3 linked regions of the Homo sapiens genome follow. The gene in region 3 interacts genetically with the main gene of each other region. Each region holds a gene or a part of one and is shown on either strand. Other genes may lie near its edges.

Region 1 (3,690 bases), about 17 Mb from region 3:
GAGGTGAAGGTTGCTGTGGGCCAAAATCATGCCATTGCACTCCAGCCTGGGTGACAAGAGCGAAACTCCATCTCAAAAAAAAAAAAAAAAAAACAGAAACGTATTTGGATTTTTCCTAGTAAGATCACTCAGTGTTACTAAATAATGAAGTTGTTATGGAGAACAAATTTCAAAGACACAGTTAGTGTAGTTACTATTTTTTTAAGTGTGTATTAAAACTTCTCATTCTATTCTCTTTATCTTTTAAGCCCTTCTGTACTGTCCATGTATGTTATCTTTCTGTGATAACTTCATAGATTGCCTTCTAGTTCATGAATTCTCTTGTCAGATGTATATAATCTCTTTTACCCTATCCATTGGGCTTCTTCTTTCAGAAATTGTTTTTCATTTCTAATTATGCATCATTTTTCAGATCTCTGTTTCTTGATGTCATTTTTAATGTTTTTTTAATGTTTTTTATGTCACTAATTATTTTAAATGTCTGTACTTGATAGACACTGTAATAGTTCTATTAAATTTAGTTCCTGCTGTTTATATCTGTTGATTTTTGTATTTGATAGGCTGTTCATCCAGTTTTGTCTTTTTGAAAAGTGAGTTTATTTTCAGCAAGGCTTTATCTATGGGAATCTTGAGTGTCTGTTTATGTCATATTCCCAGGGCTGTTGCTGCACACAAGCCCATTCTTATTTTAATTTCTTGGCTTTAGGGTTTCCATACCTGAAGTGTAGCATAAATACTGATAGGAGATTTCCCAGGCCAAGGCAAACACACTTCCTCCTCATCTCCTTGTGCTAGTGGGCAGAATATTTGATTGATGCCTTTTTCACTGAGAGTATAAGCTTCCATGTGTCCCACCTTTATGGCAGGGGTGGAAGGAGGTACATTTAATTCCCACTGCCTGCCTTTGGCAAGCCCTGGGTTCTTTGCTCCCCATATAGATGTCTAAGCTAAAAGCCGTGGGTTAATGAGACTGGCAAATTGTTCCAGGACAGCTACAGCATCAGCTCACATATTCACCTCTCTGGTTTTTCATTCCCCTCATTTTTTTCTGAGACAGAGTCTTGCTCTGTCACCCAGGCTGGAGTGCAGTGGCATGATCTCAGCTCACTGAAACCTCTGCCTCCTGGGTTCAAGCAATTCTCCTGCCTCAGCCTCCCGAGTAGCTGGGACTACAGGCGTGTGCCAACACGCCCGGCTAATTTTTTGTATTTTTATTAGAGACGGAGTTTCACCGTGTTAGCCAGGATGGTCTCGATCGCTTGACCTCGTGATCCACCCTCCTCGGCCTCCCAAAGTGCTGGGATTACAGGTGTGAGCCACCGCGCCCGGCCTCATTCCCCTCATTTTTGACCGTAAGGATTTCCCCTTTCTTGTAAGTTCTGCTATGTATTTAAAAGAATGTTTTCTACATTTTATCCAGCATTTCTCTGTGTTCTGTTGGAAGGGAAGGGCTTAGGTATCTAGTTTGATACATAGGTAGAAGTGGAACATTTCTCTGTCCCCCAGCTGTCATCATATAAGATAAACATCAGATAAAAAGCCACCTGAAAGTAAAACTACTGACTCGTGTATTAGTGAGTATAATCTCTTCTCCATCCTTAGGAAAATGTTCATCCCAGCTGCGGAGATTAACAAATGGGTGATTGAGCTTTCTCCTCGTATTTGGACCTTGAAGGTTATATAAATTTTTTTCTTATGAAGAGTTGGCATTTCTTTTTATTGCCAATGGCAGGCACTCATTCATATTTGATCTCCTCACCTTCCCCTCCCCTAAAACCAATCTCCAGAACTTTTTGGACTATAAATTTCTTGGTTTGACTTCTGGAGAACTGTTCAGAATATTACTTTGCATTTCAAATTACAAACTTACCTTGGTGTATCTTTTTCTTACAAGCTGCCTAAATGAATATTTGGTATATATTGGTAGTTTTATTACTATAGTAAATCAAGGAAATGCAGTAAACTTAAAATGTCTTTAAGAAAGCCCTGAAATCTTCATGGGTGAAATTAGAAATTATCAACTAGATAATAGTATAGATAAATGAATTTGTAGCTAATTCTTGCTAGTTGTTGCATCCAGAGAGCTTTGAATAACATCATTAATCTACTCTTTAGCCTTGCATGGTATGCTATGAGGCTCCTGTTCTGTTCAAGTATTCTAATCAATGGCTTTGAAAAGTTTATCAAATTTACATACAGATCACAAGCCTAGGAGAAATAACTAATTCACAGATGACAGAATTAAGATTATAAAAGATTTTTTTTTTGTAATTTTAGTAGAGACAGGGTTGCCATTGTATTCCAGCCTTGGCGACAGAGCAAGACTCTGCCTCAAAAAAAAAAAAAAAAAGGTTTTGGCAAGCTGGAACTCTTTCTGCAAATGACTAAGATAGAAAACTGCCAAGGACAAATGAGGAGTAGTTAGATTTTGAAAATATTAATCATAGAATAGTTGTTGTATGCTAAGTCACTGACCCATATTATGTACAGCATTTCTGATCTTTACTTTGCAAGATTAGTGATACTATCCCAATACACTGCTGGAGAAATCAGAATTTGGAGAAATAAGTTGTCCAAGGCAAGAAGATAGTAAATTATAAGTACAAGTGTAATATGGACAGTATCTAACTTGAAAAGATTTCAGGCGAAAAGAATCTGGGGTTTGCCAGTCAGTTGCTCAAAAGGTCAATGAAAACCAAATAGTGAAGCTATCAGAGAAGCTAATAAATTATAGACTGCTTGAACAGTTGTGTCCAGATTAAGGGAGATAATAGCTTTCCCACCCTACTTTGTGCAGGTCATACCTCCCCAAAGTGTTTACCTAATCAGTAGGTTCACAAACTCTTGGTCATTATAGTATATGCCTAAAATGTATGCACTTAGGAATGCTAAAAATTTAAATATGGTCTAAAGCAAATAAAAGCAAAGAGGAAAAACTTTGGACAGCGTAAAGACTAGAATAGTCTTTTAAAAAGAAAGCCAGTATATTGGTTTGAAATATAGAGATGTGTCCCAATTTCAAGTATTTTAATTGCACCTTAATGAAATTATCTATTTTCTATAGATTTTAGTACTATTGAATGTATTACTTTACTGTTACCTGAATTTATTATAAAGTGTTTTTGAATAAATAATTCTAAAAGCATATACTAAGACTCATTCACTTTATTCAAATATTTGTGTGTTCTGTGTGCCAGGCATGGGACTCGTTCTAAGGAGAAAGCAGTGAGCAAGGCAGGCATAGTCTGCCTATATAAAGCTCCCAATCTGAGGAGGATAGGCAACTGACCACGCAGTGTGAACCGGGGAGCCTATTGCACAACCAGTCTGATAATGCTGCATCTCAGTCTAAATATCCTAGTAGTGTTTCTTAGTCGCCTCCTGACGAAAAGGCAAATATGAATGTTCTTTCTTTGGGCCTAGAAAGTGATCTAGTTGACATTTCTAGCCTAAAAGATCTGTACTAGAATATGACAAGTGCAAAGATCCTGGTATCCTAAATGCAAAGTTTTTTACCTGTTTATCATATTTTTAAAATAAATTCAGTCCTCTGGAGTTTTAGTCTCTTTTGCCTAGATTTTAACAAAATGCATTTTGCATAAATATAGTGGAGTCAAAGTTTCCACAAAGATTATAATGACTCAGAATTTGGTAAGTAAGGAGATCTCATAATAGACATTATCCTCTGAA
Region 2 (3,654 bases), on a different chromosome or scaffold from region 3:
AGCTGGTATGGTCTAGAGCATGGCCAGCCACCCATTGAACGCAAGGTATAATGGATGGGGAGGGTGCATGGCGGGGAGTGCGTAGTAAGAAAGCCTTGTAGGCCCAGCATGGGTACAGATCCATGTATGCTGGGTAGGTACACATATGTCTGCTCTCTTCCCCCTCCTAGCTCATCATACAGGTATCTTTGTCTGCTGTGTGTGTTCCCCTGTGTGGCTCTCTTTACAGACCATTGTATATGTGTGTTTGTATGCTATGTTTGTAAGGCAGAGTGTGTGCTCCTCTCATTTGAGAGGTCACAGCGCTGTGTCTGTGTGAGTACACCTGTGTCTGCACCCCTCTACTCTTACAGGTCATAGAGCTGCCCAACATCCAGAAGGTCGAAGTGTACCCAGTAGAACTGCTGCTTGTCCGGCACAATGATTTGGGCAAATCTCACACTGTTCAGTTCAGCCATACCGATTCTATTGGTGAGTCTAAGGGTCACGCAATGGGTTGGTGTTCCTAGCTACTAGTCCCAACTCAGTGACTTGAGGTTGCATAGGGTTAAGCTGAAGCTGACTGAGAAGGCACTGGTCAGACTTTGGAAGACCCAGAAGGCATTGGCTAAGTTGGGTGGAGGCACTGAGGGGATCTACTAGAGCCCTGAGGGTATGTGAGCTACATTCTAGTGGCTTACGTGGTGTGGCAGAGGATATTTGCTGGAGATCTCCAGTCTGGAGTGTGGGCCAGTCATTTGGAGACTGATTGAGGACACAGGTATTGGCCAAGCATGTGAGGTCCGTAGGGATGAGTCAGGTATGCCCAGATGGATTGATCATTTTGGGTCTCACAAAGATCTTGAATGTACTCCATCACCCCGCACAGGCCTAGTATTGCGCACAGCTCGGGAGCGGTTTCTGGTGGAGCCCCAGGAAGACACTCGGCTTTGGGCCAAGAACTCAGAAGGCTCTTTGGATAGGTTGTATGACACACACATCACGGTTCTCGATGCGGCCCTTGAGACTGGGCAGGTAAGGGTGGGGAGGGCTTTTCTGTTCAGGTGGACTGGCAGATAGACTCACCTGGCAGTACTCGGGGGAAATGAAGGCTAGGTACCCATAATGTCCTCCATTAATACCTTTCCTTCTTTCTCTTTCTCCAACCCAGTTGATCATCATGGAGACCCGCAAGAAAGATGGCACTTGGCCCAGCGCACAGCTGCATGTCATGTGAGCCCTTGGGGTATCTGGTCCAGAGCGGGGGCGTCCCACAGTAGGCAAAATGATTTAGCCCATGAGCACATTGCACCCCCATGCAGCAGGCCCTCAGCTGACAGTTTCTCATCTAACCCCAGGAACAACAACATGTCGGAAGAGGATGAGGACTTCAAGGGTCAGCCAGGCATCTGTGGCCTCACCAATCTGGGCAACACGTGCTTCATGAACTCGGCCCTGCAGGTTGGGCCATTATAGTTGTGTCTGGCACAGCCACGTGGTTGGGCTTCAAGAGCTGAGGATTGGGGACAGAGCTGGGGTCCTGAGGGGACTACAGGGCAAGGGGTCAGGATGAAAGCTGAGGCCCCACAAGTCTGAAGTGGCACGCCCACGTTCATTCCTGAACTATCAGCCTCTTCTCTCAGCTTGCCCTCATTTTCCCTCTTCTCTTCCCTGTTCCCACGTTCTTCCTTCTCGTGAAATCCTAATGCCTTCTCTCCCCTACTCTCCTGCTCCTCTCTCTCCTCCCTTCCCCTTCTCTCTTGTTTTCCTCTCTCTTTCCTCCTGGCTTCTTTTTGTGTATCCTCACTTTGAACCTTCTGTCTCCCCTCTGCCTCATTCACCTGGTCTCTGGCCTCTGCAGTGCCTCAGCAATGTGCCACAGCTCACCGAGTACTTCCTCAACAACTGCTACCTGGAGGAGCTCAACTTCCGCAACCCACTGGGCATGAAGGGTGAGATCGCAGAGGCCTATGCAGACCTGGTGAAGCAGGCGTGGTCTGGCCACCACCGCTCCATTGTGCCACATGTGTTCAAGGTGTGACTCAACCCTGGGCACCCCCGACCCCCTACGTCTCTTGGCTCTCCTAACTCCCTCTCTCTCTGATGACCCTGCCCATCTTCTTAGAACAAGGTTGGCCATTTTGCATCCCAATTTCTGGGCTACCAGCAGCATGACTCTCAGGAGCTGCTGTCATTCCTCCTGGACGGGCTGCATGAGGACCTTAATCGGGTGAAGAAGAAGGAGTATGTGGAGCTGTGCGATGCTGCTGGGCGACCGGATCAGGTAGGCTGCCCCCGCATTTGCAGTCCAATTAACATCACCAAGGCCTCTGCCTCGGGGATTTTCTGGCCTCCCTGGGGTATCTAACACGCCACCATTTTCTGTTAAGTTTCTCTACCTGACCTCAACTCCAGCCTTACTCTTAACCTTAGTTGCAATACCATATCTGCCCCCACAGTCAACCCAGAGTAAACCCCAGCGCAGTCTCCTGCCCTAAATGACCCCCAGTCTTGACCGTGAACATAGTCTCTGTGTATCCCTAGCTGGAGCTCTGCCTCTGGACTTTAGCAGTGGCCTTCCGCTTCACCCCATTTGAATGCACCCCAAGCCATGGTTTCCTCTTACCCTGGGCAAGCCCCACCACCCACCATGACACTATCAACAGGAGGTGGCACAGGAGGCATGGCAAAACCACAAACGGCGGAACGATTCTGTGATCGTGGACACTTTCCACGGCCTCTTCAAGTCCACGCTGGTGTGCCCCGATTGTGGCAATGTATCTGTGACCTTCGACCCCTTCTGCTACCTCAGTGTTCCACTGCCTATCAGCCACAAGAGGGTCTTGGAGGTCTTCTTTATCCCCATGGATCCGCGCCGCAAGCCAGAGCAGGTGTGGGGCAGTGGGGGCCTGGGGAGATGATGATGGACACATAGAGTTTGATTAGCTGCCATAGCTCAAGGCTTCTTGCATTAACTCACCACAAGCCCTTTTGGTCTTTTGTGGATACCGTTTTTCCCTTAGCACCGGCTCGTGGTCCCCAAGAAAGGCAAGATCTCGGATCTATGTGTGGCTCTGTCCAAACACACGGGCATCTCGCCAGAGAGGGTGAGACTGCAGAAGGAGGCTGGATGGGATTCCAGGGCAAGGAGGCAGAAGGGCCTGGGAGGCCGTGCAGACTAACAGTCCCCTCTCCATATCCCATTCCTAGATGATGGTGGCTGATGTCTTCAGTCACCGCTTCTATAAGCTCTATCAGCTAGAGGAGCCTCTGAGCAGCATCTTGGACCGTGATGATATCTTCGTGTGAGTGGGGATGGCAGGGAGGTGGTGGTTCCTCAGGAACTTGGTCCACTTCCTTTTGTATGGTCCTGCCTTAACCACCTTCTCTCTTCCCTGCCTCTGCCTCGTTCACTGGGCACCTGCCCTGCGCAGAGCTTCAGCCACATGCCTTGGGAGGCTGAGGCAGGAGAATCACTTGAACCCGAGAGGTTCAAGTGAGCCAAGATCACGCCACTGCACTCCAGTCTGGGCGACAGGGCAAAACTCCATCTCAAAAATAAATAAAGCCGGGCGCGGTGGCTCACGCCTGTAATCCCAGCACTTTGGGAGGCTGAAGCAGGCAGATCACGAGGTCAGGAGATGGAGACCATCCTGGCTAACACGGTGAAACCCC
Region 3 (3,654 bases):
ACTGCAGTCTTGACCTCTTGGGTTCAAGTGATCCTCTCACTTTAGCCTCCTGAGGAGCCAGGACTACAGATGCACACCATCACGCCCAGCTAATTTTATTTATTTTTTGTAGAGATGGGGTCTCACTATGTTGCCCAGGCTGGTCTTGAACTCCTGGGCTCAAGCAGTCCTTCTGCCTCAGCCTCCCAAAGTGCTGTGATTACAGGCCTGAGCTGCCATGCCTATCCTGATTCATCTATCTTTGAAGTGCCTCTAAAGTTTCCAAGTTGGGATTCTTAGTGTGAAAACCATATTGAATTAATTCAAAGGAAACTTTTCATGGATTTATATTATTATTTTTCCTTGAAATCTTTATAATAAGAACATTTAAAAAAACTGGGACTTGCTTTGTTTTTAGAATTGCCATGGGACCAACCCAGTGACAGCTGTCAGGAGTATTCTGACTGGAAAGAAAAAAAAACATACCTCAACCCTTGGAAAAAAATCGATTCTGCTCCTCTAGGTAACTGAATTATCTTGAGTGAAAGAGTACCGATTTCTTGGATATGAAGTCTTGTGCTATTTGAATTTTTTCTTACTTTTTTTTTTGTTTTAAACTTACAAATAATTCATGTTCGTTGTAGATAAAATAGTAACTATAAGTAAAAAATTAAGGAAAAAATAACTCTTTAGTCCCAGAACTCTGCAATAGATTTTTAAAAATATTTTGGGGAGTGTATATTCAGAGCAACTTGAATCTGCTCTTAGATGGCTTTTTACTTAAAGTTTTCATATGTGCTATACTTTGTTGCAAATACACTCGTTTGTTGCTTAATTATAGGGATGCACTCTAACAAATGTTTCATTAGGTGGTTTCATCATTGTGTGAACATCATAGAGTATATTTACATAAATCTAGATAGTATAGCTTACTATAAATCTAGGCTATTTGGTATACCCTATTGATCTCAGGCTGCAAACCTGTACAGCATGTTACTATACTGAGCACTGTAAGGAATTGTAACATAATGGTATTTGTGTATCTAAGTATAGAAAAAGTATAGTAAAAATACAGTATTATAATCTAATGGGACTGTCTGTTATACGTGTGGTCCATTCCTGACTGAAACATCATTAATGTGGCCCATAAGTATGTAAAATGAATATATGTATATTATTTATATGTGTTTTTATACAAAATGAGATCACACTAATAATATTTTGTAACTGTTTTTGGTTTTAGTGCGCAGCGAACATTCTTCCATGACTATAATTGTAGGTCTACATCGTTGGTTTAAAGGCTGTGATAATATTCTGCCATGTGGATATGCCTTACTTTACTCTTTTAATCACTTTGTTGGAGATTTTTCTAAATTTTCACAGATACAAAAGAGATATAAGTATCTGTGTAACTTAATCATGACACATACCCTTAAATTGTTCATTGAAATCCCCAGAAGCAAAATTGCAGGATCAAGGATGTAGTTTTTATTATTATGGCTTATTTTGTCAAATTGCTTCCCGAAAGTTCGAACCATTTCATCACAGTCTCATCAATTTACATTAAGGAAAAAAACTTTAAATAATAGTTTTTCATTTTTATTTTAAATTTAATACTAATGAAGTTGTATACCCTTTATGTATGTATTAGTTTTTTGTCTATTTTGCTCATTTTTGTCAAGGATATTGTTTTTCTTACCACTTTGAAGCTTTTTTTTTTCCTTGATAACACATTGACCTTTGCACTTGTTACAAATACTTTTCACAATTTATCATTTATTTTCATTTTGTTTTGCTATATTGACATTCAAATCTATTATCTTGTCCTTTGTGGTCCCTGACTATAATTTCTTTGGAAAGGTCTTCTACCTCTACTATTTAAAAGTTCCCTATGTTTTCATTTAGTGTTTTTATGGCTTCATTTTTCCATTTAAATCTTTGGTCCATTAGGAAATAATCTTCACATAGGAAGATACGTGAATTTTTTCTCAAGAAAATTAAGATACCTTAGGATGGTTAGTTAGATTACTGTCTCTTAAAAAGTTATTGGTAAGTAAATGTTCATTATAAAACTGTGTGAATAAGGAGGTCACGTGAGAACATGACATTGAAGTAATGAAATTCGGTATTGAAAATGGATAAGAGGGGTTTCTGTATCTTTTTGTTAATCTCGTCACATGAGGAGAAACATTTCCATCTGGCTCTTGTTCTCAGTTGCAAACAATTGAGAATCAGATCAGGGAAGACTACTCCAAGATACAGCAGCAGAGAAAAACTGCATGAAATTAAAGCAGTAATTTAGTAGCTTTAATTCTTTCTCTTCCCCAGGAATAATATTTAGACATAAGTAGGCTAACAGAAAATGTGTTTCTTACCTCAAGCCATAGGCTTCTCTAACATGATTCTTTCGTGAATGTTGTCGTAATGTTTGTTTTTAGCTCTGCTGCATAAAATCTTAGTTGAGAATCCATCAGCAAGAATTACCATTCCAGACATCAAAAAAGATAGATGGTACAACAAACCCCTCAAGAAAGGTAATATCCTTAAACTACAAGTTTGTTTGTTTTTCTGTGGAAGAAAAGGTAATTGCAAAGTTATTATCACAAGTCAACAACACATGATAGCTATGATCTCTGTCCTCATGGAGATTATAATGTCCAGTAGAAAAAAATACAGAAATAATTTTGTTTATTAATAATTATAAAGGGGAAAGTCAGGGTACTATAGCTAAGTGTTTGACCAAGTCTAAGGGACAGGGAAGACTTTTCTTCCTGAAGAAATTACATTAAATCTAAGATTTGAAGATTAAAGGGAAGCTAGGCAGGCAAAGTAAGTGGCAGATTTGATTCTGAACAGGGGAAGCAGTATTTGAAAAATCTTAGATTTTAGAAAGTCTGATGCTTTTGAGAAACTTGAAAGATCAGTATGGCACAAGCCGTGTCTGTTGTGTTCATCATTGTATCATCAGTGCTTTAGCACAGTATATGGTGCACCATAGGCACTCATTAAATATTTGTTGAGTGAGTGAACAGGGAAGTGGGAGAGGAAGACAGGTTTGAGATGAGGCCAGAGAGGTCGCTAGTGGCCAATTTGTGGAAGAAGACCTTGTAAGCCATGTTAAGGATTTTGGGCTTTAACTTAAGACCACTGGGGAGACCTCTGAGAGATTTTAAGCAAGACTATGACATAGTCATATCTTCGGTTTAAAAATATTTCTCTGACTTCCTTATTTTTTTTCCATTGTTTTTTATGAATAGGGAAAGATTCAGGGTGCTGTAGGTTTTTCTGCTAGTTGTCTAGAAGTGGGAGGCTGGTGGCTTGGAATAGGTTAGGGCAATGGTATTGGAGAAATGAGATGATTCCAAAGAAATTTAAGAACTAGTATTGATAGGACTGTTAGGCTGTGAATGGAAGGAGAGAGGACAATGACTAGAGATGATGAATGAAAAACATTCAGAGAGTTATTAATGTTTAACTCTGTCCTCATGGATAGAAAAGAGTTAATGTTTAAACATTCACTCTTCTTTAATACCTCTCTGCATGTTTCTTCCTCCTTGTCCTAACTTAAAGTCCAATTCTCCCCTGAGGACACTGCTTCCTCTGAAGCGGTAGGTGTTTTCTTTCCCATACCCTCATGTCCTTTGATCTGGACATGGTACAGGTGTCCTCCTTATT

What was found.
Region 1: changes in CHEK1 (region 3) and ATM together harm fitness more than expected from each alone (negative genetic interaction), as found in Homo sapiens cells (one large-scale study listed by BioGRID).
Region 2: changes in CHEK1 (region 3) and USP11 are lethal when combined (synthetic lethality), as found in Homo sapiens cells (one large-scale study listed by BioGRID).

The regions. Positions count from the first base shown.
Region 1 is NC_000011.10:108,365,956-108,369,645, forward strand, and holds the end of ATM (serine-protein kinase ATM), read left to right. Parts: 3' UTR 1-3,147; downstream 3,148-3,690.
Region 2 is NC_000023.11:47,239,437-47,243,090, forward strand, and holds part of USP11 (ubiquitin carboxyl-terminal hydrolase 11), read left to right. Parts: coding exon 1-45; intron 46-353; coding exon 354-471; intron 472-868; coding exon 869-1,014; intron 1,015-1,150; coding exon 1,151-1,212; intron 1,213-1,337; coding exon 1,338-1,440; intron 1,441-1,840; coding exon 1,841-2,014; intron 2,015-2,104; coding exon 2,105-2,263; intron 2,264-2,645; coding exon 2,646-2,870; intron 2,871-3,002; coding exon 3,003-3,086; intron 3,087-3,189; coding exon 3,190-3,284; intron 3,285-3,654.
Region 3 is NC_000011.10:125,635,032-125,638,685, forward strand, and holds part of CHEK1 (serine/threonine-protein kinase Chk1), read left to right. Parts: intron 1-397; coding exon 398-502; intron 503-2,417; coding exon 2,418-2,513; intron 2,514-3,654. UniProt on the Homo sapiens protein: Serine/threonine-protein kinase which is required for checkpoint-mediated cell cycle arrest and activation of DNA repair in response to the presence of DNA damage or unreplicated DNA.